Linked DNA regions of Homo sapiens. The protein of the gene in region 1 interacts with the protein of each later gene in a pairwise test. Each region holds a gene or a part of one and is shown on either strand. Other genes may lie near its edges.

Evidence for each region. Proteins that work in one complex are often made in the same cells at the same time.
Region 2: the proteins of PSMB1 (region 1) and OTUD7B interact in binary tests that used the Homo sapiens proteins (3 or more experiments, as listed by UniProt).

The regions. Positions count from the first base shown.
Region 1 is NC_000006.12:170,546,808-170,550,307, forward strand, and holds part of PSMB1 (proteasome subunit beta type-1), read right to left. Parts: intron 2,307-3,500; coding exon 2,199-2,306; intron 1-2,198. UniProt on the Homo sapiens protein: Non-catalytic component of the 20S core proteasome complex involved in the proteolytic degradation of most intracellular proteins. This complex plays numerous essential roles within the cell by associating with different regulatory particles.
Region 2 is NC_000001.11:149,944,727-149,948,226, forward strand, and holds part of OTUD7B (OTU domain-containing protein 7B), read right to left. Parts: intron 2,610-3,500; coding exon 2,525-2,609; coding exon of another isoform or gene 2,498-2,524; intron 340-2,497; coding exon 1-339. UniProt on the Homo sapiens protein: Negative regulator of the non-canonical NF-kappa-B pathway that acts by mediating deubiquitination of TRAF3, an inhibitor of the NF-kappa-B pathway, thereby acting as a negative regulator of B-cell responses.

The DNA.
Region 1 (3,500 bases):
AAAAATTTCATAAATTTGACTACATAAAATTCTACAGGGAAATTTAAGAATAGCTTTTTAAAACCCTAAGAAAATATATTAGTAGCATCTACCCCCAAAGTCTAATTTTAATTCTATAAAAATTCTTACAAATAAGGAAAGCAATAACATAAAGGAAAGATGGGTAACTTCTATGAACAGACAAGTCACAGAAAAAAGAGACATTAAGTCACCATAAACATAAGAGCCTCTATGTTACTCAGAAATCCAAATCTCAAAAAGAGACTATTTCAACCAATTATACTGGCTAAAAATGCCTAACTAACTAAATGCTGGTGAGGTTGTGGAAACAGTATAAACTGATTAACCTGTTAGATGGGCAATTTGGTGGTATTTATTAAAAATTTAAATACACACCACTCTCACCAATTCTATTGCTAGAAATCCATCTTGTTAATATACTTATCCAAGTATGCAAAGGGATGCTCTAGACTCACCAGTGAGTACTCATTTAAATAGCACCCCAAAACAAAACAAAACCTAAATGTCCATCTGTATGGAGAGGATTAAAATTTGGTATAGACATACAAATTCAACCGTGTATTTCAAAAATTAATTCCTAGATCTTGATATGAATCTATAAAGAAACCTAAACAATATTTTGCAGAGGCCACACAATTCCTCTTGGAAACTTACGAATGACTCGCACAAACCATACCTGTCCTACTAGGAGAGCAGCTGACACCTCTAGGGTCATCACTAACATCACCTGATCTATGCCTACCATCAACCTCACTGCACTAAGGTGAAGACGTCCAATCCCCTATAAGGCTTTACTGCCTTTACTGACAAGATTGGTTGACAATACCAACAGGGAAAGACAGAAATCTTAGAACTTCAAGATGCTTTTCCCAAATATCCAGGTGCATCAAAGGAATGGGAGTTTTCATGCAAAGAATACAGTCTGAAACAGGTTTGGAAGAGGCAAGCTTAGTTCTAGGTCAGACCCACAGGACGTGGGATGAGGGATATATACAGGCATTCGTTAATGCTGCATTGTTCTTATTCTCTATCTCTATATCTGACGTGTTTCACAAAAAAAAAAAAAAAAAGTGCTCACTTCACCAGCAAACGTAACTAAAGCAATATTTAAAAGATGAGTAAAAGCTAGTACAAGGATGGTATCCATAAAGTTGTTTTAAAATCTTATTTCTAATATTTACTACTTTCAAGTTGTACAAGTGTCGTCCTTGAGGAGAAAAAAAGGTAACACAAGAGCACCATAAACAGAAAGCAGAAAGGGGGTATCAAAAGATGCAAGTGGAGAGAAACAGAACTGGGAAGACGAAAACAAACTTCATTGCTTTTTAAGATGTGGGCCATCCCTAGGAGCAGGAAAGACAACGTATCTTTTCTTCTGTACCTACTTCCTACAATACAAGGAGGGTCCATCCAAAGGACCTAAACCTCGTAAGTCCCATTCCTATTACAATTCAAGTTTAATTAACCCAGGAATTCATGACCATTTATAAGCATTTCCAAAACTGGTAAATACAGACCACTGCCAATCTGCAGTATGTATTCAGTATTTATGCAGGCTTTTTGTTTTTTTAAGTTTTGGCTTTATTTTCATGTTTTAGGAAAAACATAGCTAGCCTATTAAAACTGAGCTGTGGACATAATTGCTTAGGATATTTCTAAAACGAATGTTTCAGGTAAAAAAAAAAAGTGTGGGGAGGCAGATTTAAAAAAAATATCATTTAATGGATTAATGGTGCTGTGGTTTGAATATTCCCTTCAAAACTCATGTTGAAATTTAATTGCCATTGTGATGGTACTGGGAGTTGGGACCAGGTGTTTAGGTCCTAGGGCTCAGCTTTCATGAATGGACATTATCACAGCAGTGGGTTCGCTTGCTCTTCTTTCTTTCTCTGGCCTTCCACCATGTTAAGACACAGCAGGAAATTTTTCATGGTAAAATGCTGGGGTGAACACATTTAGGTTACCGAAAGCACTTTTGGTACCCTGAATACAGCAAATATTATTAAGACTGCACATTAAATTATTAGGAAACATTAACTTAGAAAATGGTTTTCTAATAAAAATGCTCCCAACAGCAACTTAAAAACTCATGAAACAAATCATTTAGAAGTAGAAACTCTCACAACATCAAATCATTACAAAGGCATTGTGAAATGTCTTTAGAAATATTTACTTACAATTTGTAACATTTGGGGCTATCCCGCGTATGAATTGAAAACCCTTCACTCAATCGAGTATCAGAAGCAACAATTGCAAAATCTTCTCCAGCAATTGCCAGTATAGTACTGAGGAAAAAAGAAAAAAATTAATTCTCCAGGGTGGTAATCCTATCCCTACAAATAGAAGAATGCTCCATAGTACATAATGGGATAAAATACTCTAGATGTCAACAAAAACATGATTCAAATGGGAAGAGGAAAGATGAGCGGGAAGAGAATGAACGCCTGGCTACGAGTTGTCTGGGAAAAAAAAATTATTAATAAGCCTAAATCAGGGCAAAGTCTCCTTGGCAGGAGTTAACAGAAAAGCCAATGAATTATCATCACCAACACATTAAATACTTACTCGCGCAAGGTACTACTAATACAGAACAACTAAATACCACATCTGTGCCCTTGAGGATCAGGTATAGACAGTGGTACTACAACGCAAGCTCTATGAGTTTAGAGAAGATGAGATTTTTTTTTCTTGCTTCATTTCTTTATATCCAAGTCCTTATATAACGCCTATATAATGCTTATTTCTTTATACCCAATCCCTTATATAATGACAAATAGATGGACAAACAGTAAATTTTTCCCTCTGTGGCTGTACAATTTGACAGCTTATCAAAGAGACTTACAGTAGAATTCCAAAAGCAGACCGCCTGGGTTCTAATTCTGGCTTTCCCGTTTCGCAGATATGAGACTGTGGGTAAGTTACTTCTCAAAGCGTCAATTTCATCATATATACAACAGAGATCACTGCAGTTGCTACCTCATTAGGGTGTTCAAAGGATCAAATATGTAAGCCCTTATAGCAGTCCCTGACATGTAACTGGTCCTCTAGTAAGTGTTAGCTATAAGTGCTATGGCACTGGAGTATGACTAAGCACCTGGGCTCTGGAATTACATGAGACAGAGACCCACTCTTGCTACTTACTAGGTATGTGATCTTGGACAAATCCTCCAAATGCAAGTTGATGATAACAGTACCTGTGTCACAAGGTGTGTATATATATTTGGGTGTGTATATTTTAATGTACAAGGCTTGACTGATAACTATAACCACTGCTTCAATGCAATAGTGGAAATTAAAGGCATGGTGCCTCACAGACGTAAGCACTCAGGAAACTTAAGCCACTATTTTTACTGAGGAGGGATTTGTGCTAAAGCTCTCAAGAAGAAAAGGATGGCATTCCAGGTAATATAAACAGCAAGCAATGGCAAACAGGTAATTATTCAAATAGTACATACATTCAAGCAACTCATTCAGGCAGC
Region 2 (3,500 bases), on another chromosome or scaffold:
GTTTTTCTTCTTCTTCTCCAGTGTCTCAGTGCCGCTGCTTCCTCCCAACCCTGTCCCCACCCCTCCAGGCTTTGAACCCTTGCTGTGCATCAGGCCCCCCATGTTCTTCTTGAGCTTGCTGCCCAAGGTTTTGCCAAAGCTGCCCAGTTTGTTAGCCACAGAATCTGCTCTCTTCTTGTCCTTCTCCCGATCTCGCTTTGACTTCTCCTTCCGCCGGCCGCCCTCGTTGCTGGTGGAACTGCTGCCAACTGACTCCTTGTCTGAGTCTCCAGACTCAGGAGTGGACCGGGGCTCATCTCCAGCTGAGGCGGTGGGGGACTCAGGCTGGGCCAGAGGAGCCTGGAAGAGACAAGAACACTGTTGACAGTTATCCCAGCAGCCTGGGGTGGGGGAATCCCCCAGGGACCTCTAGCCCATCCATCTGGCTCAGGGAGCTCCCTGCAGCCATGGCTATAGAAATTAGCCAGGTAGAAAAGGATGGACACCTATGAACTCCGTCCTCTGAGTGATTGCCTAGTGACTGCCTTGCTCCAGAGAAGGGCTTCTGTCATGATGAGGGAAGGGTCACCCAGGATGGCACTGTCCTTCCTGGGTTCCAGTCAGTCAGCTTTCTCCCCCACTGCAATCTGACTCCCTTCTGTAATAAGGAGATAGTAGAATAAAGCCTTACTGTTCATTTAGAACAATGAGCAACCATATGATACGTGGCTTCCGGGTGAGAGGCCCAGACATTAGAATGTTCTTTATTATACATTTCTCTATGCCAAATTCTGCTCGAAACTAATCTCAAGAAAGTCTTGACTAATCAAAACTAACCAAGTCTAGCCACTTTGCATCCCCTCAACTTTTATACATTCTGCATTGGAGTTATCAATTTGACCCTACTCCTGTGCTCCTGTTCTAACTCAGAGCCCACTGAATTAGGAGCTCTTTAAGCTACTCCGTCTCCTAGTGCCCAAAACAGAGGTCTATCTACAGAAGACTTTGGACGAAATAATGATCATCTCAAGTTCAACAAACAGTCCAGAAAACCTTTCTTAAAGAATATGTTAAGCCAGGCACGGTGGCTCATGCCTGTAATCCCAGCACTTTGGGAGGCCGAGGTGGGTGGATCACCTGAGGTCGGGAGTTCCAGACCAGCCTGACCAACATGGAGAAACCCCATCTCTACTAAAAATACAAAATTAGCCGGACGTGGTGGTGCATGTCTGTAATCCCAGCTACTCAGGAGGCTGAGGCAGGAGAATCGCTTGAACCCAGGAGGCGGAGGTTGCAATAAGCTGAGATCGCACCATTGCACTCCAGCCTGGGCAAAAAGAGTGAAACTCCATCTCAAAGAAAAATAATAATAATAATAATAATATGTTTTAGGTCAGGCGCGGTGGCTCACGCCTGTAATCCCAGCACTTTCGGGGGCCAAGGCAGGCGGATCACAAGACCAGCCTGGCCAACATGGCGAAACCCCATCTCTACTAAAAATAGAAAAATTAGCTGGACATGGTGGCGGGCACCTGCAATCTCAGCTACTCGGGAGGCTGAGGCAGGAGAATCGCTTGAACCCAAGAGGTGGAGGTTGCAGTGAGCTGAGATCGTGTCATTGCACTCCAGCCTGGGCATCAAGAGCAAGATTCCGTCTCAAAAAATATATATATGTTTTAGTATCAGATAACAGAGACTGGCTGGAGAGGAGATGTGGAAAACAGGAGACTAACGGTTTTTAAAAAGCAGGAAAGGGCTGGGTGTGGTGGCTCATGCCTGTAATCCCAGAACTTTGGGAGGCCAAGGTGGGTGGATCACCTGAGGTCAGGAGTTCGAGACTAGCCTGGCCAACGTGGTGAAACTCCGTCTCTACTAAAAATACAAAAATCAGCCGGGTGTGGTGGCGCACGTCTGTAATCCCAGCTACTCGTGAGGCTGATGCAGGAGAATCACTTGAACCTGGGAAGTGGAGGTTGCTGTGAGCCAAGATTGTGCCACTGCATTTCAGCCTGGCTGACAGAGCAAGACTTCCTCTGAAAAAAAAAAAAAAAAAAAGGACAGGAAAGGCCAGGCGCGGTGGCTCACACTTGTAATCCCAGCACTGTGGGAGGCTGAGGCGGGCAGATCATCTGAGGTCAGGCATTCGAGACCAGCCTGGCCAACATGGTGAAACCTGTCCTCTACTAAAAATACAAAAATTAGCTGGGCGTGGTGGCGCATGCCTGTAATACCAGCTACTCAGGAGGCTGAGGCAGGAGAATCGCTTGAACCCAGGAGGCGGAGGTTGCAATGAGCCAAGATTGTGCCATTGCACTCCAGCCTGGGTGACAGAACAAGACTCCATCTCAAAAATAAAAATAAAAAATACAATAAAAACAGGAAAAATTGTCTTTGGAACTTATCTGACATCTTCTAGTTACTTCTAACCTTGAATTGTAAGCCACCACTCAGAATAGATTCAGAAGGAAACCATCCCAGATCTCCTTGTTCTGTCACTGAAAATGAAATGAAGACACACCAGGGTAGATGTGGGAGAAGTCTTCACCTGTGCATCAGAGGACAGTGGGATCCACTTCACATTCATGTAGCTATGCAGCAGATGCAATTTGACCTCTAGGGACAGAATTACACTATGAAAAAGAGAAAAAACAAATTACTGTCACCTTTTAAAAGCAAAGCAATTTGATATAGTTGGGAGAAAGGGTGGGAGAGGGCTACATGGCTTAGGACTCAAATAGGGTTGGGTTTGAACTATTTCTCCACCAATTAATAAGCTTTATGACCTTGAGCAAGTCACTTCAACCTCCCTGAAACTCAGCTGCAGCTGAGAATGGGTATAGATAATATCTATCCTGTAGGGTTGTTGTAAAGATTAAAACAGTGTTTGGAAAGAGCCCAGCACAGTGTCTGGAAAATGGGAAATACTAGATAGTAGCCATTATCATTGTTGTTGTTGTAAATATTATTTAGAAGGAGCTTTTGATAAATAGGTGAGAGGTTATTTTTAAAAAGCCATAAACTCTGGATTTTAAAATCAAACTCTCTTAGCTGGGACCCAGTGGCAGGAGCCCAGAGAGTGAAGCACTAGGTAAGTGCTAAGGGAGGAGCTTTTGCATTCATACACTCTCCATCAGGAAGTTGATGCAGGAGGCAGAAGGAAGGCTTAACAAGCCACAGGGAGGTAGAGTGGGGGCTGAGAGGGTAGGGAACATATTTTTCTTGCTATTAAATTCCAGAAAGGCAAAAACTCAGAGCAAACTATTTTTATCACGTATTTATTTATTTATTTTTTGGATGGAGTTTCACTCTTGTTGCCCATACTGGAGTGTAATGGTACCATCTCAGCTCACTGCAACCTCCGCCTCCTGGATTCAAGTTATTCTCCTGCCTCAGCCTCCCGAGTAGATGGGATTATAGACATGCACCACCACGCCTGGCTAATTTTGTATTTTTAGTAGAGATGTGGTTTCTCCATGTTGGCCAGGCTGGTCTCAAACTCCCGACCTCAGGTGATCTGCCTG